Linked DNA regions of Homo sapiens. The protein of the gene in region 1 purifies or fractionates together with the protein of each later gene. This does not show direct contact. Each region holds a gene or a part of one and is shown on either strand. Other genes may lie near its edges. The genes, in order: HJURP and DUS1L.

Evidence for each region.
Region 2: the proteins of HJURP (region 1) and DUS1L purify together in Homo sapiens (affinity purification with mass spectrometry; 2 studies listed by BioGRID and IntAct, with this or other methods). This does not show direct contact.

What each region holds. Positions count from the first base shown.
Region 1 is NC_000002.12:233,836,237-233,846,664, forward strand, and holds the end of HJURP (Holliday junction recognition protein), read right to left. Parts: intron 9,585-10,428; coding exon 9,492-9,584; intron 8,048-9,491; coding exon 7,969-8,047; intron 5,970-7,968; coding exon 4,373-5,969; intron 1,417-4,372; coding exon 1,341-1,416; 3' UTR 466-1,340; downstream 1-465. UniProt on the Homo sapiens protein: Centromeric protein that plays a central role in the incorporation and maintenance of histone H3-like variant CENPA at centromeres.
Region 2 is NC_000017.11:82,060,831-82,071,417, reverse strand, and holds the start of DUS1L (tRNA-dihydrouridine(16/17) synthase [NAD(P)(+)]-like), read left to right. Parts: upstream 1-5,613; 5' UTR 5,614-5,805; intron 5,806-5,903; exon of another isoform or gene 5,904-6,064; intron 6,065-6,348; 5' UTR 6,349-6,358; coding exon 6,359-6,595; intron 6,596-7,183; coding exon 7,184-7,292; intron 7,293-7,899; coding exon 7,900-7,950; intron 7,951-8,444; coding exon 8,445-8,557; intron 8,558-9,434; coding exon 9,435-9,517; intron 9,518-9,696; coding exon 9,697-9,800; coding exon of another isoform or gene 9,801-9,861; intron 9,862-10,064; coding exon 10,065-10,209; intron 10,210-10,456; coding exon 10,457-10,553; intron 10,554-10,587.

The DNA.
Region 1 (10,428 bases):
GCTTTCTGGAGGTGATTAGGTTTAGATGAGGTCATGAGTGAGGGGCCCTTATGATGGGATTAGTGCCCTCCTAAGATACCAGAGACCTTGCTCTCTCCAGCATGTGGGGACACAGCAAGAAGACAGCTTTCTGCAAGCCAGGAAGAGTCCTCACCGGAGCCCAACCATGCTGGCTCCCTTGTCTTAAACTTCTAGTCTTCAAAAACTGTGAGAAAATAAACTTCTACTGTTTAAGCCACCTGGTCTCCAGCATTGTTATGGCAGCCTGAGCATGCAGGTGCGCACGCACACACACACATAACATGGTCCCAATGTAAGACGCAGGGGGGAAGAGATATGGGGCAGGGTATGGGGGTGATACCTGACATCAGGAGAGCAATCGCCTGGGGCGGCAGGCGGGAATGAAAAATGTGTAATTTAATCTCATTTTAAATCTTTCATAAAAAAAAAAAACCCAAACTCATATGGCCATATATTAACTATTTACTCCAGCATGAGTTTCACCAATGTATTCTGAATATGTGAAATATTTCATTACAAAAACGTCACCATGATATCCTGTCATCAACAGCTTCAGTAAGAATCATGAGGAGTCACAGGCGCTGTGGCTGCAGGAGCGTCTGGGACCACCAGGACTGTTTATTTTCCTTCAAGGGTCATTGCATGCAGGGCTCGAACTTACGTCTCACAAGCAAACAATATTCTCGAATGAAATGGGAAACAGGAGAGAGGATTCTCTGGACATATCTAAATTTAAAAAAGAACACACGGCTGGGAGCAGTGGCTCACGCCTATAATCCCAGCACTTTGGGAGGCCGAGGCAGATGGATCACGAGGCCAGGAGCTCGAGACCAGCCTGGTCAATATGGTGAAACCCCGTCTCTACTAAAACTACAAAAATTAGCCAGGCGTGGTGGCGCGCGCCTGTAATCCCAGCTACTCGGGAGGCTGAGGCAGAAGAATCGCTTGAACCCGGGAGGCGGAAGTTGCAGTGAGCCAAGATTGTGCCACCGCACTCCAGCCTGGGCGATAGAGAGAGACTGTCTCAAAAACAAACAAACAAACAAACAAACAAACAAATAACCCCCCCCCAAAAAAAACACACACATCAGAAAAACAGGCCTATCAAAGAGAACCCTAAAAATTCTAATTGAGCAACTTTATTCACATAATTTCTACACCAAGAACTCGAGGTTATCTCTGATGGAACCAATTTCACTAATATTTACTTTAAGGGCAGAGAAGTCAACCAAGTCCTCACAGTCTCAAGAATCAAAAACAAAACAAAAATACAAACAGAGAGCAAGTGGGAAGATAAATAACACTCCGAAATAACCTAGCTACACACTTTTAGTTTCCAATTTTTCTAGCATGAAATCACTTTTCTCTTCCATCCTGTAAGACGTGTTCTCTCCTCTAGGAAAAAAAAAAGACAAAGAAAATGATGTTAGCAAAATTCTAGAATTCCCAATGCCAGCCACTAAAAGGTTAACTGTTTTCTACTTATTCCATTGCATGTATAAAAATACTTATAGAAAGTGGCATTACGTTAAATAAGTAAGTTATGTTAAAGAAACAACAAAAATATAATGGCAACCCCCCGACCCTGCTCCCCACACTCCCCCAGGGAGCACAAGCTGGTGGGGAAGTCCACATCCCACACCCTGGCCCAGCTAGCGCTGCTGCACGAGTGAATTTAGGAGTTCTAAGACTTAAGCTACTTTTCCATATCTATTAAAAGGAGAGACAGCCTGCCTATTGGACAGAATCGATCTAATCAAGGGGTTCTGGTGGGGATGAAAGAAGATAAGACGTAAAAACGGTTCAGCATGGCCTGGCACACAGAGAGCACTCAGACGTTAGGCATGAAAACTCCATATGTAGTTGCAGCTCATGAAGAATTGGTCTCTTTCCTCAAGAAATCTATCATTTAAGCGGGAAAAGCAGAAAAACATAGGAAACCAGTTAAACATGTTTATATTGTGGTTTAAAATGAAACCTGGGGTGTTCATGATTTGACTTGCTATCAAATTCCAGGGTAGCTGGGAGGGCCCTGCGGGGCCACCAAGGGCTGAGTCCTCAGGATGGTCCCACAATAATGCAACCTCACACCATTCTCTACAAGGCCGAGGTCCCTCCTGTGTGGCTGGGCCAGAAGAAAGCCCTTTAGACTGAGCAGGTGAAAAAGCAAGGCAGGAGCCTCTGCACGGAGCACTGGGGCAGATGTCACTCATGGAAAGGGGTCTGCAGGCGACTGGCACGGTGCCAGATCATGGAACAAGGTGGGAAAAGGCACGAGACAAAATCCCAGGGGCAGGATGATGGTAAAAGGAAGAGCTGGGGCACTATCTGAGAAAAAGCAGTTAGGTTTAGACAAGCAGGACGAGCAGAGCAGAGGAGCTCTGATGTGTGGGAGACCAGGAGAAACCTCAGATCTCTCTCTGGGCCGGACAGTTGTTTTTGGTGAAATTCTCCCCTTTCAACTGAGAAGGAGACTCTTGAGAGGTCATCTGTTAAACAGAACGCATAAACTTTGCCTCAAAGCAGCCTCCATGAAGTGTCTGCCATGAAGATGTAGCTGAGATTCTTGAAGGCTTCACTAACTGTGGCTGAAAGTCACCCGGCTGGTGGTTTGGTCTGAAAAAGCCCCAAGTGGGCACAGGAGTGGGCATCAGGCACACAGTTGGAGACCAAGACCCGAGGGAAAGACTGCTGTTAGCCGTGCACTGCCAGGGGAGGAGCTCCGAGGGCCCTGCCCACACAGTGCCCCTGACCCTAGCTGGGGCCCTGCAGAGAAAAACCTTTCCCATCACCTGAACACTTACGTATGTCCATCCTCAACTGGGAAGACAGATGACAACCAAGGCTTGTTTCATCTGCTTCTGGTTAGCTCACACAGTATGACTTTATACACGAAAATAACTTTGAAAACCAAAACATCCAACAAAACCTGGGAGCTTCTAGAACTGAGCCAAGGAGCCTGAGCCGCTAACCCATGAGACTGGTCTGTGTCCAGACAGCTCCCCACTGCAGCACCCACCATGTGCAGCCCCTGGGAGGGTGGGGGTTACCTGCACGGAGCAGGCAGCTGAGCGGTGGGTGGAGTCTAGGGAGGATGTCCGAGGATGCAATAGCAAAGAACTGGGGAGTAGGGGGAGAATGCCAGTGAAAGTTCCCTGGAAGGGAAGGGCTGTCCTACGGCAGACCCTGGAGCAGGTGGCCCTGAGCAGTCCAAGGGCATTGGGAAGACAGAGTGACAGTGAGAAAGGCCCCAGGGGGCTCAAGCCACAGGAGGCCGCTGGCGGTCTGAGAGTGTGGTCTCTGCCATGCACAGGCGGGACTGCAGGCTTCGAAGGCAGGCACCACAGAAGGAACAAGGCATACCAGACCTTGGTTCTGAGCTGGACGCACGGCAGGAGCCAGTGGCTGAGAAGGGCTCGCAGGCCAGGCGGGTCCAGGTGGGAGAAACAGAAAATGGGACACTTATGGCAGGCAGGGTCCACCCAAATGACCTCAGAGAAGAGGCACATCGCCAGGCTAGGGCACAAGGGAAGAGGATACTGGAGACACGGCCTCACCTGCTGGAACCACAAACACACAAAACCCAAAGGAACCGGCCAAATCAAACCCACAGTCAAGTCCCGTCCACCTGTGGGTTAAGAAAGTCGCATCCTCCAGATCCTGACTGTGGACACACAGAGAAGCTGTGCTGGGGAATCCAACCTTTAATGCCAACAAAGGTACTCACTCCCACTGACCCACCCCACCCCACTGTCTCTAGAGAAAAGGGCACACGCAGACTAAAACTCTAGCTGACATGATTCGCACAAATTAAGCTGCAGAACAAGGTGCAGAAGTTTTAACACTGAGCACTGAGATATCTGCAGGGCACCCCTCGCACCTGTGAGAATACTGTGCTCGTGGCTCTCCCAGGCCACTCTTGCTCTTTCCCTACCAGGAATCCAGAAATAGGAAGTCATTCGCTTTAGATCACTTTCGCCTTACAACAGCTATTTTCTGAGTGTCAGATGAAGAGGTTAGAAATGAAGGTTTGACAAAGACGAATAAAGCGTAGTAAGTGAGGATTTGCAGGAAAAAAGCCTCTGAATGCATTCTAATGGAAAGTGTGAAACTTCTGCAAGAGCACTTTCTGCTTTACCTCGATGCATCTTACACAGGGACACATTCTTGATAGAGACGCTGACTTTACAGGAAGGAAAAGCATTTGGGAGAAAGCTCAGAAAATGATCACGTATGTAAGAATTCGGCTGAGATTCACTAAACGTGGCGCAAAGATTCCTACCATAAAAAGCCTCTGTCCAAAGAGCAGTCACTCACATAAACCACATTCAACCAACAGAAACACACCTACCTCTCTTCTGAGTTGGGCTGTGAAGAGCTGCCCTGGTCTCCCGGTCTGACGGTGTTGTCCACCCCATCTGAGGCACCCAGGGAATTGCCCTGGCGTCCGGAGCCCTGGGGTTCTGATAGCCTGGGTCTTTTTGCAGGGAACTGATGGTCCCTCGTGCCATCCCTCGTGATGGCACGAGCAACACATGTAGATGAAGGAGCCTCAATTGCAGTTGAGCCCAGTAGACTTTTTCTGCACCCCAGGGGTGATGATGGCAACTTCTGGAAACCCTGGAAGTGAGGGTCTGGATTTAATTTTCCTAAGAAGCCTTCTGTTTGATATCGAACTTCCATACTTGCTTTATCTGTAGACACTCCAATACATAAAGGCACTGTCATCTGCCCAGGAGATTTGAGGCAATACTTTTGATGAAGCTTGTCAAATTCTTCTTTAATTTCATCGTAACGATTCCTTCCGTGGCCTGGCACTTCTTTATCTGGGACTGAAAGAGTTTTGCTGGGTGACACTGACTTTCTAAATATTCCAGAACTATTTCCCTGAACGTGAAGGTCAGATGTCTGCTGCGGGCGAGTTGCGCTGTGTGTGGGGTTGGTCTTTGGAAGTGATGAAGATGAATCGCTCTTGGGCAGGCACCTACCTGCTTCCAGAGATCTTTTGCCTAGGTTTTCAAAAGCCTCACTTAAACTTTTTGCTTTTGCTTTGCTGGAAGGTAAACTCAGCCTGCGGGTTTCTAAGCCCTGAAGGCCACCAGGACTCGCAGGACCCCCTCTGTACATGTTCATGGCCCAGGAGTCCGGGAGGCACATCCGGCGAGGCTGGTTCCTGGGACTCAGGCAATATTCCCGATGAAGCTGATCAAATCGGATTTCAATCTCCCTCTGACGGTTCTCTCCATGGCCCTGTCGTATTGTTGGTCTGGAAACTATTTTTACAGGAGAAATTAACCATTTTAATGTCCTAAATCTATTTTCCTCATCAAGATTATATGTTGCACTGGAGTCGAAGTAAATCAAGGAAGAATACTTCGAGGGTGTCACTTTGCGCTCCTTCCAACTTGGATCTAACTTATGGATTTGGGGTCTGTTGACTTCAAGAAAAGCTTTTTCCAATTTTAAACCTGTCTTACGGCAAGAAACATCTAATACGTTCTTGCAATCTCTTAATGCCCCTGTCCCTTTCACAGGCTCAGAGCAGGGTATGAAGTTCTCCTTGGAGCTCCTCTGAGAACGTCTGGCTCCTTTGCAATATGTTTTGTTCATCCTGCTCTTATATCTGTGCCTCCTCCTGGAGTTCCAGTTTTGCATGATGAACGTTTTGGTGGAGATGATGCTTGATGGCTTTGTGCTCAACAGCCGGCTCATGGAGTGCAGCATCCCTGCGTACAGGTCACTGATGGTCACATTGCAAATGTCATCATCTTCAAAGGGCTGGCTGCTTAAGAAGCTGCTGCTACTGGTCTCTTGTAGGGAGAGGCTGTCATTTCTAGGTACTAAGGCCATGTCTGTGGAGGAAGGATGCAAAGGATCCCATTCTCTGGGAGATGAAGCTGGTTTCGCTGGGTCACCAGGACTCTTTCTGGAGATACGACTGCAGTATCCTGGGAGAAAAGATACACATAAAGTAAAGGTGTGTTACCATTCTAAACCATCCATGTGCACAGATGACAGAACTTAAGATTGGATCAGGACTATGTTTTTTTAAGCAATAGCAAAAACAAAAACACCACAAATGTGTAGGAGTAGACTCTTCTCAGAGATATTTTTTGGTATCAAAATTTGATTTCTACTCTCCATCGTACATTTCCCAAAGGTGTCTTCCTTTCCCTCTAGGCTGTTTAGAAGATGGATGCCTTTTCAAAAGCTAATTAGAAACTGAAAAATGACAACACTGTTTACCTACATGGATGGGAAGGGGTGTAAGACTTCTAAACAAACCTCTTCATATAGCTTTGACTTTTGCATCATGTAAATGTTTCCTATATTTAAAAAAAAAAAACCAACAGTGATGGGAAAAAACCATAAAATTGAACACAAACAAAAAAAAAATCTGTATGTTAAATTGATAAAGAGAAAAAAAAAGAGTCCAAATACTCTGAGTGTCTGCCTCTTAAAGAGATATTGTCTAAGGATAAAAAGAGCTGCTTGGAAATTTTCAAGCTTATTTAGTAGATGGTTGTGAAGAGTGGTAGCAGGTGCTGCAATGCTAGAGTTATTTTATGCTGTACAATTGACCAGATGAGCACGTGTTAACTCACTGCGGCTGGTGAGAACTGGGAGAGGCAGATATGGCATCAGGGCAGGGGTGAAGAAGTGCTCAAAAACGCATGTCGTTGCACTACACGACACAAAAGCCAGCCTGAAAGGGGCTCCCTGACAGCTAAATCTGGGGTTACTTGAGCGTCAAATTGCATACCGGCAATGGATTATAACATGTGAATCAAAGAACAAAAAGACTCCATGAATTCCTACTGATCCTAAAAAATAAAAATAAAATAAATCAAAGCATGAGAGGGAACTACAGGAAGCAAAAAAAAGAACCAGAGGGGAGATAGCTCTTTTGAGCAGAATAATGCCAACTGACGTGTGCCAAGGAACGGCAGAGACAGAAACAACCTGGGCGGGGACCTCCACCCAGGCGATCCGCATTGCTGGCTTCTAAGTCACTGGGTGAGAAGCTTTTAGAGAAAAGGTTCCTAGGAGATCTCAAAGAATCACACATAGATGACTCCAGGGAAAAAGGGCCTGTCGCAATGAGAAACATCGAAGTAAGGTCTTACCTTAACTCAATGACCAGCCTAAAAGTCACCAAGAATGGGACAGACTGACCAAATGTTCTGAGAGGACACGTCATCCCTGTAGTAATTTTGCCAAAAATGTTTAACGTGAACCTAACCACGAGGAAGCAATCAGGTCCAAATTCAGGGACATTCTGCAAAATTACTGGCCTGTGCTATTCAAGAAAGGCAATAATATGAAAGGTGACCATGAGGGAGAAAATGCCAAGGAGCCGCTCTTGATGGAGGGAGACTAAACGCAACGGTGGTACCAGCCTGAGTGGGTCCGGAAACGATCAGGCAAACCAGAAAGGCTGCAAAGGACGTCACTGGCACAATGGGTAGAACAGTACCGCATCAATGTTCAATTTCTGGCCTGTGTTAAGCGTACTGTAGTCATAAAGGAGAATTAGCCGATTTTTGGAGGTATGTGTGAGGCATTTAGGGATAAATGCATACACAAATGCAAATAAATACACACTGTGTGTGCACGTGTGTGGCAGGGGGTGATAACGCAGATATGACAACATGTTAATTGTGAAACAAGTGAAGGGTGTTCACTGTACTAGTCCTGTGCTTCTGGAGATGCAAAACTTTTCAAGCTAGTAAACTGGAATAAAGAGCAGACGTGGAGGAGAAAACAGCTCATTTTGAAACATCTTAATCTTCCAGTGAAATCCAAGTATATCTCTAACAAGTTATGTTGATGAAACACACCAGGAAATGATGGCGTGGCCAGTATGAGCAGCTCTGAGGGGCCACGCAGCTCCAACAAAAGTGAAGGAAACACGCACTGTTCATACAGTTTCTATGTCACACTCACCGGGGGCAGGCACGGCAGGTGAGGCCAGTGAAGGCAGCGGAGTCACACGTACATCCCTTCCAGCTCTGTTACCTGCACACTGAAATCAGAGCCAGTGGTTACAAGAAAAAAGTTGCCAGGTGTCAACTGGGTGCAAGGAGCTGGGTTCTCCCCTGACGATGCGGACTGTGCATCTTAGCACAGCCATGTCGACAAGCGTGTGAATGTGGTGACAGTGGCCAGCTAGGCTTCGGGCAGTGGGAAGAAAATATGTCCTACTAAGATCTGGACAGTTGATGTGGTCTCCAGGATAGCTTCCAGCCACAGTCACCACTCACCTGCCAGTAACTTCTTACCCCAGGGGCGCTGGTAGCTTTCTTTGTCTAGCATTATACTCAGACCACAAGAACACCTAGGGGCCAACCGGACGGTGGACAAAGAAGACCCAGTAGATCCGTTCGTTCCTAACCCTAATCTGTTCCCTGGATCAACACAGCAACCAAGAGGACACCACTTGCTGCCTTGGGTTAAAGGAAAAAGCATTTCAGGTACATCCACTAAGTCGGTGGTCCACAAATACAGGCTTTCCGCTGGTCAGCAGCACAGTAAGAAAACACATACACCCCTGTGAGATTGCTGCCTTTTTCTGGAGATGAATTCTTATTCTGCAATGTGTACTTCCTAAGTATTTGGTGTTGCAATGTCCTTTATTCTATGGCAGAGGGCACTGACCTTAAGAGAGGGGTTGGCAGGTGAGTGTGCCCACCTCTCATGCCATCACATCCCCCCCCTCCCAACATGACCTCTCAGCAGGCGGGACAGGTGCCAAGGGTCAGCCTCCTCACCTTGCAGCTGATTCTAGCCTGATCGCACCAGGGAATGTGGGGACTATTGCTTCCCTAACTATGCAGCTTCAAATCCTGGTCCAGAGGTCAGGGCTGCTCTTAAGAGTCCCGTGTGTGGCCCCAATAGATTTTTTTTTTTTTGAGATAGAGTCTTGCTCTATCACCCTGGCTGGAGCACAGTGGCACAATCTCAGCTCACTGCAACCTCCGCCTCCTGGGTTCAAGCGATTATCCTGCCTTAGCCTCCCAAGTAGCTGGGATTACAAGCACGCACCACCACACCCAGCTAATTTTTCTATTTTTAGTAGAGATGAGATTTCACCATGTTGGCCAGGCTGGTCTCAAACTCCTGACCTCAAGTGACCCACCTGCCTTGGCCTCTCAAAGTGCTGGGATTACAGACATGAGCCACTGTGCCTGGCTGCCCCACTAGATTTTTCTGTGAGTTGCCCCAGAACAGTGGGCAGAGCACCCCTGCCAGGGCTCCCACCTTCCTGATGGCGCTGCCCTGGGGGACCTGGAGTGTTTATTCAAGAAGAGCAAGTATGTCAGCATGTGAATAAAACAATTTGGAAATCATTACTTCAAATGCTCTTTATGGGTTCTGTAGAAAAAACAAAAAGCATAATAACACTGTACCTCAATGTATTTAGTTTATGATCTAATTATATAAAAACAAACAACTGGGAAACAGATTACCTCAAAATACTCTGCACCTTGTAGCAGTATATCCACTTGGGTCAAGTATTTCCTTCTTAATTCATTTTTCAAAGGGCTTTGAGGCACTGCAGGCTGATCAAAAAAGAGAAGTCAGAATTTTTAAGAGCTTCTGAGTATAGCTGACCTTTTGGCTTCTGGAACAAACTGGCAAGCTCATTAATGTACAAATCTTTACATGATCCTACTCAAAGTCACTTTCACCTCCATGATGTTATTCAAAGTCACTTTTTCACTTCCTGCTATGTTAATAATCCAAAAGAATGTAAAAAGACACACACACACAAAAAAACCATGTCTAGAGAAGTTTATGACAGCATTGCTAGACCAGGAAAAAAAAAATCTGAATATTCATAGGTGAGTTCAGGACTCAACTACTGGTAATAACTTCAAACTGGTAAGTTTATAAGAAATTCAGTGCTCCTGGCTGGGTGTGATGGGTCATGCCTGTAATCCCAGCACTTTAGGAGGCTGAGGCAGGTGGATCACTTGAGGCCAGGAGTTCGAGACCAGCCTGGCCAACATGGTGAAAGTCCATCTCTACTACAATACAAAAATTAGCTGGGCATGGTGGTGGGCGCCTGTAGTCCCAGCTACTTGGGAGGCTGAGGCAGGAGAATCGCTTGAACCCAGGAAGTAGAGGTTGCAGTGAGCTGAGATTGCCCCACCGCACTCCAGCCTGGGTGACAGAGTGAAACTCCATCTCAAAAGAACCAAAAACAAAAACAGAAATTCAGTGCTCCAGCTCAGGAGGCTCTCCTACCCCTCCCCTGCTAGACACTGGAAATAGAGGGCGTCACCCTCTATCCTCTGCTGAGTGGGGCTGGCACTTTGGTTCTTGACTCTTGGTACCACCCACTTCCCCTTTGTTCCAATCCCTACACAATCTCTCAGTGAGCATCCACTTTCTTCCCCAGGA
Region 2 (10,587 bases), on another chromosome or scaffold:
TTAACTTCAAAATATTTTTAAATTTTCCTTTTGGTTTCTTCTTTGACCCATGGGTTACTCAGAAGTGTGTTATTAATTTTCAAGTATTTGTGCATACCTCAAATTTCTATTTTTGTTTGTTTCTTATTTATTTATTTAGACATGGTCTCATTCTGTTGCCCAGGCTGGAGTGCAGTGGTGCAATCTCAGCTCACTGCAACCCCTGCCTCCTGGGCTCAAAACATCCTCCCATCTCAGCCTCCCAAGTAGCTGTGATTCAAGCACATGCCAACACACTCAACTAATTTTTAACTTTTTTTTTGTAGAGCTGAGGTCTCACTCTATTGCCCAGGCTGATCTCAAACTCCTGGACTCAAGCAATCCTCCCACCTCAGTCTCCCAAACTGCTGGGATTATAGGCATGAGCCAGTGTGTGTGGCCTGATTTCTAATTTAATTCCACTGTGGCTAGAGAATAGCTTTCCAATTATTTTAATTTTAATTTTTTTTTGAGATGAAGTCTCACTCTGTTGCCCAGGCTGGAGGGAAAATGTTTTATTGTGTCTTCTTTAATGGCCTAGTATATGGTGTAGCCATGGGTGAAGTGTTCCATAAATGTCTGTCAAGTCAGATTGATTGATAGTGTTTCTCAAATCTCCTACATCTTTGCCAGTTTCTTGTCTAGTTGTCCTATTTCATTATTGAGAGTAAGGTACTGAAATCTTCAACTATTATTGTTAAATTGTCTATTTCTCCCTTCTTTTTTTTCACTCTTTTCATTATTAATTTGGGGGCTCTATTGTTTGGTGCTTATGTGTTTCTAATTGTTACATCTTACTAATGAATGGACATGTTTATCATCATAAAATATCGGTATGGGCTGGGTGCAGTGGCTTACACCTGTAATCCCAGCACTTTGGGAGGTAAAGGTAGGAGGATGGCTTGAGCCCAGGAGTTTGAGACCACTCTGGGTGACAAAGTGAGACCCTCATTTCTACAAAAAACAAAAAAATTAGCTGGACATGGTGATGTGTATCTATGGTCCCAGCTACTTGACAGGCTGAGGCAGGAGGACTGCTTGAATGCAGGAAGTTGATGCTACAGTGAAGCCATGTTCACATCACTGCACTCTAGCCTAGGTGACAGAGCGAGACCCTGCCTCAAAAAAAAAAAAAAGAAAGAAAGAAAGAAAGAAAGAAAGAAAGAAAGAAAGAAAAAGAGTCTGTATGTGTCTCTAGTGATATATTTTATCTTCATATCTATTTTGTCTGACATTAGTATAACCATTCCCGTTCTCTTTTTTTTTTGAGACGGAGTCTCGCTCTGTCGCCCAGGCTGGAGTGCAGTGGCACGATCTTGGCTTACTTCACTACAAGCTCCGCCTCCCGGGTTCACGCCATTCTCCTGCCTCAGCCTCCCCGAGTAGCCGGGACTACAGGCGCCCACCACCACGCCCAGCTAATTTTTTGTATTTTTAGTAGAGACGGGGTTTCACCGTGTTAGCCAGGATGGTCTCGATCTCCTGACCTCATGATCCGCCAGCCTCAGCCTCCCAAAGTGCTGTGATTACAGGCATGAGCCCCTGCGCCCAGCCTCCAGTTCTCTTTTGGGTGCCGTTTATATGGTATATCTTTTCTCGTATTTTCACTTTCAACCGGTTTGTGTCTTTGAGTCTAAAGTGTGTAGATTGTGGCCAGGTGAGGTAGCTCACACCTGTAATCCCAGCACTTTGGGAGGCCAAGGCGGGCAGAAAACCTGAGGTCAGGAGTTCGACATCAGCCTGGCCAACATGGTGAAACCCCATCTCTACTAAAAAGACAAAAATTAGCCAGACATAGTGGTGGGTGCCTGTAATCCCAGCTACTTGGGAGGCTGAGGCAGGAGGATCTCTTGAACCCAGGAGTTGGAGGTTGTAGTGAGCCAAGACTGCGCCATTGCACTCCAGCCTGGGCAACAAGAGGGAAACTCCATCTCAAAAAGATAAATAAAATAAAAAAATAAGGTATATTGAATGTAAAGAGCATATAGTTGGATCTTGTTTATTTCTTAACCCACTCCGAAAATCTTGGCCTTTTACTTGGAGTGTTCATTACCGTTTAATGGTATTATTGATACAGTTAGATTTACATATGCCACTAGTTTTTTTTCTTTGTTTAGTTTTTGTTTTGTTTTGTTTGAGGCAGAGTCTTGCTCTGTCACCCTGACTGGAGTGTAGTGGTGCTATCTCAGCTCACTGCAACCTCCCCCTCCTGGGTTCAAGCGATTCTCCTGCCTCAGCCTCCCCAGTAGCTGGGGTTACAGGCTCACGCCACCACATCCGGCTAATTTTTGTACTTTTAGTAGAGATGGGGTTTCTACTAAATTAGCCCTATGCCTGGCTAATTTCTGTATTTTTACAAAAATTATGTATTTCGTATGTATTTTTTTATTTCTCTGTTCTGCTATTGCCTTTGTTGTGTTAAATGGATATTTTCCACTGTACCATTTTAATTTCTTTTATATATAATATAATGTATTTTCTTTTTTTTTTTTTTTTTTGAGACAGAGTCTCGCTCTGTCATCCAGGCTGGAGTGCAGTGGCGCAGTCTCCGCTCACTGCAAGCTCAGCCTCCCAGGTTCCCGCCATTCTCCTGCCTCCGCCTCTCAAGTAGCTGGGACTACAGGGGACCGCCACCACGCCTGGCTAATTGTTTTGTATTTTTAGTAGAGACGGCGTTTCATCATGTTAGCCAAGATGGTCTTGATCTCCTGACCTCATGATCCGCCCGTCTCGGCCTCCCAAAGTGCTGGGATTACAGGCGTGAGCCACCGTGCCTGGCCTATATAATGTATTTATTTTCTTATGATTACTATGGGGATTTCAACAAGCATCGTAATTTATCACAATCTTCTTCAGATTAATACTTAATTCCAGTAAAACACAGAAACTTTGCTCCAATATAATTCCCTTCCCTCTTCCTTTTTGCTGCATTTTTCATATAATTATATGTCTCTATATATTATAACCTCTTTATAGTTACAAGTTATACACCATAAGTTATATTTTTATTATTTATTTATTTATGTTGAGACGGAGTCTCGCTCTGTCGCCCAGGCTGGAGTGCAGTGGTGCCATCTCGGCTCACTGCAAGCTCCGCCTCCTGGGTTCATGCCATTCTCCTGCCTCAGCCTCCCGAGTAGCTGGGACTATAGGCGCCCGCCACCATGCCCGGCTAATTTTTTTCGTATTTTTAGTGGAGACGGGGTTTCACCATGTTAGCCAGGATGGTCCCGATCTCCTGACCTCATGATCCGCCCGTCTCGGCCTCCCAAAGTGCTGAGATTACAGGCATGAGCCGCCGCGCCCGGCTAAAAGGCAAAAGATTCATATGATCTGGGCTGGGCGTGGTGGCTCATGCCTGTAATCCCAGCATTTTAGGAGGTCGAGATGGGCAGATCATGAGGTCAGGAGATCGAAACCATCCTGGCTAATGGTGAAACCCCATCTCTACTAAAAATACAAAAAATTAGCCGGGTGTGGTGGCGGGCACCTGTAGTCCCAGCTACTCGGGAGGCTGAGGCAGGAGAATCGCTTGAACCTGGGAGGTGGAGCTTGCAGTGAGCAGAGATCGTGCCACCGCCCTCCAGCCTGGGTGACAGAGCGAGACTCTGTCTTAAAAAAAAAATCTTTTACCTTTTACAATTACTGGTTCGATACTGTGCTTAAATATTCTGAACCAGTAGGGCCTCCAGCCTCTGCTGATGGCGCTGTGTGTGGGTTGTGGCTGCATTTGGAATTCAGGTAGTTTTTACAATTTGGACTTGGCTTTTACTTTTTGCTTGTACAAAGCCTCACGTTCAGCCAGGGCGGTGGACAGCTGGGGCCCTCGCCTGTCTTTCCTTAGTGTGCACCCAACCTTGCAGTCCACCAGGGACATCTGGCCACCTCTGAAGACCACCAAGGCTGTTCTATCTGTGAATGCAGAAAATCTGAGACAGGTCTCAGTTAATTTAGAAGGTTTATTTTGCCAAGGTTGAGGACATGCCCATGGCACAGCCTCAGGAGGTCCTGACAACATGTGCCTGAGGTGGTTGGGGCACAGCTTGGTTTTATACATTTTAGGGAGACATGAGACATCAATCAATATATGTAAGATGAACATAGCGGCTAGCTGCGGTGGCTCACGCCTGTAATCCCAGCACTTTGGGAGGCCAGCGGATCACCTGATGTCAGGAGTTCGAGACCAGCCTGGCCAACATGGTGAAACCCCCATCTCTACTAAAAATACTAAAATTAGCTGGGTGTGTTGGTGGGTGCCTGTAATCCCAGTTATTTGGGAAGCTGAGGGAGGAGAATCGCTTGAACCTGGGAGATGGAGGTTGCAGTGAGCCGAGATCACGCCACCGCACTCCAGCCTGGGTCAGAAAGCGACTCCGTCTCAAAAAAAAAAATTGGTTCAGTCTGGAAAGGCGGGACAATTTAAAGCAAAAGCCATCGGGGAGGGAGCTTCCTGGTCACAGATAGGTGATACACAAACGGTTACATTGTTTTGAGTTTCTGATTAGCCTTTTTTTTTTTTCTTTTCCTTTTTGATCAGTCTTGCTCTGTCGCCAGGCTGGAGTACAATGGCTTGATCTCGGCTCACTGCAACCTCCGCCTCCCAGGTTCAAGCGATTCTCCTGCCTCAGCCTCCCGAGTAGCTGGGACTACAGGGGCGCACCACCACACCTGGCTAATTTTGTATTTTCAGTAGAGACAGGGTTTCACCGTGTTGGCCAGGCTGGTCTCGAACTCCTGGTCTCAATGTGCGCCACCGCGCCCAGCCTTCTGATGAGCCTTTTCAAAGGAGTCAGTCAGATATCCATCTATCTCAGCGAGCAGAGGGTGACTCTGAATAGAGCGGGAGGCAGGTTTGCCCTGAGCAGCTTCCAGCCTGAGTTTTCCTTAGTGATTCCGGGGGCCCAAGAGATTTCACATGTTTTAGGTACTGAATGTCCTGGTTCAACTTCGGGCTTCGCTCTCAGATATGGAAAGCTCTGACAAAGCTGCTTTTTACATCTGTTGGGTCTCAAATGCCTTCAGTTTAAAATAACCTTCACATCCACTCTGGGGTTCCCAGTGGGTCCCCACAGCTCGAAATAACCCAAGGAGGGTCCACGGCGGGTAGGAAAGTCGATCGAAGGCTGGCGGCTGCGGAAACCCAGGGCGGGCAAGGAAGGTCCCTGGAGGGTGATTTTCCGCAACGCAGCGGCGGAAAGTGAGTGGCTTTCAGAGGCGGCAGGTGAGTGGGTTCGAGGCAGGGCTCTGGGGCCGCTTTAGGATATAACGGGATGAAGCCCCCAATGCGAACTTGGGGGCTGGGCAGCGCAGGGCCTCAGCGCCCACGGTCTACCCGCGGCCCGGGCCTTATGTGCGCCTCAGCGAGGCCCAATTTCCACATGCCTCGTTTCCAGCGAGCTGTCGGTGAGTCCCGGCGAGCCCCGACCCCTCTCTAGCCACGGCCTGACGGGTACGGTGGTGACCTCAGCCTCTGACCTCCGACCCCGCGCCGCGACCTCTCGTCGCCGGTCCCCTCGGAGCCGGGCGCGGTTTCCGGGGAACGCGTTTCCCGCCGCACCGTGGGCCGCCCGGACCGCGCAGGACCGGGCACCTTCCGGTGGCGGCGCGGAGCCTTGGGCCCGGCTGCGGCCCGGCGGCGGCCCCGGCGCGGTGCGGGCGTTCGCGGCGCCCCGGGAGCTGCAGGGGCCCCGGGCGGCGGCGAGGCCGGAGAGGGGCGGGCCCGGGACACCGGCACCCGGCGCCCTCGGAGCCAAAGGCGCGCGGCGGACACGGCGGGGCCCTCGCGCGGTGAGGACGCGGAGGCGTGTGGGCTCCTGTCACTTCACACAGCAAACGCTGCCCGCCGCGTGGCTCCGGAGGAGTCTCGCGAGGGGCGCCCCTGTGGCGTTTCGGGCCAGCCGGGCCGCCTGGCCGGGTGCGGAGAAGGAAGCTCTGCCCTTCCCCTGGCCCGGCGCGGAGCCGATTCTCCCGGGAAGGGGCCGGGGGTCCTAACTTCACCGCCGGGCGGCCTGCTCAGGGCCAGGCCCGCGGGGACGCTGGCGTCAAGGTTTCTTCCCCCTTCACGCCAGTCCCCTACCAGGCCGACATCGAGTCCCGCTCCCCAGGGAGGGTCAAGTCCCAGGGGTCCAGCGGCTCCCCCGAGGTCCGCTAGGAGGTGGCGGCACTGGAGTGGCCGTTCTCCAGCCTGCACCGACCCCCGCCTTTAGTGCCCCCGCGTGTGACCCAACGGTGGTACTGGAGCGGCCTTAGAAGGGTGACCGCTGCCTCTGAGTTGAGTCTTAAGCCCCTCGTTGGGCCTGGCTGAACCCCGGGTCTGCGCCTTTCCCCCAGCCTGGAGACGATGCCAAAGCTGCAGGGCTTCGAGTTCTGGAGCCGCACCCTGCGAGGGGCCCGCCACGTCGTGGCCCCCATGGTGGACCAGAGCGAGCTGGCCTGGAGGCTGCTGAGCCGGCGCCACGGGGCACAGCTCTGCTACACGCCCATGCTGCATGCCCAGGTCTTTGTCCGCGACGCCAACTACCGGAAGGAGAACCTGTACTGCGAGGTGTGCCCCGAGGACCGGCCCCTCATCGTGCAGGTGCGCAGGAGGGGCTGTGGCCGCGGCCGCGGTTGGGTTCCCGGTCCTGGAATGCCTGGGGAAAAACCCTTCTCTCTGTGGCGGGACATCACTTTCAGCCTTTCCAGAGACAGCTCAATTCCAGGAGGAGAGGGAGAAGGTGGCACCAGGCATGTAGAGTCCACGTAGCCACAGCAGTGATTCCTGTGGTGGAGCCAGGGCTGCCAGGTGCACCTGCCAGAATCCAACCCCATTCTCTAGGAGTGGCTCAGGCAGCCTGGGTGCTGTGAGGTTTGCAGCCCTGCTGGGGCCTCTGGATTGCTGCCTCTCACACTCACACTCCCTCTTCAGAACCAGTGGAGATGGCTCTGCTCTTCAGAAGTCAGTGATTGTGGCTTCTGCCACAGTTCAGAAGAAAATCTGTAAATCCGGGTGGCTTGGGGACTCCTCCCGGCTTTGTCATATTGTAAGCCTCCGCAGGACAGAGCACCCTCCTGCAGTGAACCTGGGCCCACACCCTCATGGGGTCACACTGGACCTCTCGTAGGGCTGGGCAGCAAGGGACTAGGGCCTGGCTGGGCCCGTGGCTGACTCCTGCATCTTCTCCAGTTCTGTGCCAATGACCCGGAGGTGTTTGTTCAGGCGGCTCTCCTGGCTCAGGATTACTGTGACGCCATTGACCTGAACTTGGGCTGCCCACAGATGATAGCCAAGAGAGGTGAGCTCCATGTGGAGCATGGGGGCACCTGGGGCAGGGGCCAGAGCCAGCTCAGTGCAGCCCCAGGTGTGGTGAGCTTGGAGGACGGCAGGCCCTGCCTCTGTCGTGACAGTGGCTCAGGCTGGAGCCAGCTGTCCTCTGTGCTCCGCCTCTGGAGGGTGGCTGTCCTCAGGCCTTGGGGGCTAGGGGCCGAGCCCTACTGGCTCTCTCTTCCCTCAGGGAGCTCCCTCTGCATAAACATGATTGCTGATACAGGGTCCCCATTACCCCCTTGCACTGCTGTGTGTGGGGCTGAGCCTGCTACCTCACCGGGCCCCTGAGGAGGTGTTACTTGGTTCCAGACCGTGCAGGGTGGGGGTTCCATTCAGCACCTTCTGAGCTTAGGCAGCTGGGCAAATAGAGCCCCTGAGTCTGATGCCGACAAACCACTGCTCTGACTGTCCCACTGCCCCAACTGGAGACACTGCTGGTTCTGGGGACCTGTGTCCCGCCTGACAGGGCAGCTCCTGGCCTGCGTGGATGCAGGAAAGGGTGCAGAGGGGGTGCAAGGCTTCGGCCCCACCAGCCTTAACACAGGTGCCAGCCAGGCCATGCTTGCTCCTTGCAGGTCACTATGGCGCCTTTCTGCAGGACGAGTGGGACCTGCTCCAAAGAATGAGTGAGTTGGCTGGGTGGATGGTGAAGGACCCCCAGAGACCCTCAAGAGGGACACATGGGCACTGTCCACTTGGTTGGGGCTCAGGAGAGGACAGGCGTTGGCAGGAGTTCTCAGCATCACCCTGGGGCTTCCTGCCCACAGCAGCCTCTCTGCTGGAAGGAGGTGGCTGTGAAGTTGCCTGTCCTGCACCACCCACCCCTTAAAACCAGACAGTAGGTGCCAGGGCAGAGTCCTTGCTCGGGCCCAGCCCCAGATGTCCTGGGAGACAGAGCCGGCCTTGGCCCTGCTTGTTTGAACTTCGGAGGGCCGGGGGTATGGCGGAGGGAGCCTGCCCAGCAACCTGAGGGAGACACCCAGATGGTGGCCCGGGCTGCCTCCCAGCCTCCCGGCAAAGCTGCCTGGGCTCCGCTGTCTGCAGGGCCCTGGGCTCTGGGGCTTGGCCGCTAAAGTGGGAACACCATGGCCCCCTCAGAAGCTGCCTCTCTTCTCCCCAGTTTTGCTGGCCCACGAGAAACTCTCTGTTCCTGTCACGTGCAAAATCCGTGTCTTCCCGGAGATTGACAAGACCGTGAGGTACGCCCAGATGCTGGAGAAGGCCGGCTGCCAGGTGAGCCCTGGGCTCGCGGGGGTGTCATGGGCCTCAGCTGGGCCTTTGCGCAGAGGACATAGCTGAGGCTCTTCCTGTGTCCAGACACCGTGCACCGTCGGCCTCATGGGGGCAGTGGCCCTCCTGACTGGCCTGTCCCCACTGGCTCTGAGTGCCACCACCCCAAGCCCAGGCCTCTACAACAGAAACTGCTTTCCTGGCTCCAGGGTTTTGTCCCTGTGGAGAGAGTAATGTCGGCATCTCTGACATATTCCTAGTGTCACAGAGGCCGGCAGGGCCTCCTTTGGGGATACTCAGCATCCAGTCTCCCTAGAGGGTGAGGAAGGGGCCACCAGGCTGTCAGCAGAGCTGCTCCCCTGCCCGTGTTCCCCGCACACTGAGCCTGGCCTGGCGCGGGCCTGGATGGGCTGCTGTCTCCGGGGGTGCCCCTCAAGACACTCACCTTCTGAAGGTGGACAGCAACCTTGGTGACCCGGGGATGAGCTTGCACAGGGGCTGCCAGGCCCAGGACCCACTTTCCCCCCCAGTGCCCCACTAGCCTGGAGTCAGTCCCTCCCACACCTTTGGCCTTGGGCAGTGGGGATGCTGCCACTTCCCGGCCTGGCTCTTGCATGGGCCTGGGCAGCACATGCAGCCTGAGGTTCCCACAGAGTGCAGAGGCCTTGGGGTAGGCCCCAGATGGCCATTCCTCAGCCCTGCTTCAGGAGCTGATATGGTGAGGGAAAGGTCCCTGCAGTCGGGCATGGGGCACAGGGCTGGGAGGGGCAGAGGGGGCTCGGAGGGGTGGAGTAGGGGCAGAGGGGGCGTGGAGGGGCGGAGGGGGCTCTGAGGGGCGGAAGGGGCTTGGAGGGGTCAAGCGACCACTGCTCTGTCCTAGTTGCTGACGGTGCACGGACGCACCAAGGAGCAGAAGGGGCCCCTGTCGGGTGCAGCGTCCTGGGAGCATATCAAGGCTGTGCGGTGAGTGGGTGTGGGTGACACAGCCCTCAGTCCTTGGGGCTTTGCTGGGGGTCCCAGCTCCACACCTCAGGGTGCTCGGCACGCCTGACGCCCGTGACCACCCAGGGGGCCGTGGCTGGGGGCAGCATCACCTGGGTGCTGTTCCGGGCGGGTGGAAACAGGCATTTCTCTGCCAACAGGAAGGCTGTGGCCATCCCTGTGTTTGCTAACGGGAACATCCAGTGCCTGCAGGACGTGGAGCGCTGCCTCCGGGACACGGGTGTGCAGGGCGTCATGAGCGCAGGTGGGCAGGGCCCAGGACAGCAGCCAGGGCCCCATGCACACGGCCTGATACCACCGCCCAGGTCGGTGCCTCCCACTGCCTACTGCCCTCCCCATGGTGCTGTTCACAGATGGTGTTCATCAATCCCAGTCTGCTCTGATGGGCCTGAGCTGGCCTTGTCCCTTGTGAGGTGGCACAGAAGGGTGTCCTGAGTGTCCCAGGCTTTCCTGTGCCGTCCACCTGGAGCAACCCACGAGGTGTCCTTCCCCGCTCCTCCTCCCACAGAGGGCAACCTGCACAACCCCGCCCTGTTCGAGGGCCGGAGCCCTGCCGTGTGGGAGCTGGCCGAGGAGTATCTGGACATCGTGCGGGAGCACCCCTGCCCCCTGTCCTACGTCCGGGCCCACCTCTTCAAGCTGTGGCACCACACGTGAGTTGCCCCCTAAGGCAGAAGCCACGTTGGAGGGCCGCCCAGGCAGATTCCGTCAGACCCCACCTGGGGCATTTTGCAGGTTTTGTCAAAACAACTTGCTGCTAAGTCAGGTCTTGAGGGGCTGGGGTGACTTAGGAGTGGAGTTGGGCAGGAAGAGACACAGGTCCCCGTGTGCCCAGTGCTCAGCCTGGGGCCTGACGGTGGAGCCGGGAGCCCAGCCTGCGTGACAGGGCCTCTGTCTCAGGCTGCAGGTGCACCAGGAGCTGCGAGAGGAGCTGGCCAAGGTGAAGACCCTGGAGGGCATCGCTGCTGTGAGCCAGGAGCTGAAGCTGCGGTGTCAGGCAGGTGCTGGGGCTGGTGGGAGCCCGGCCTTGC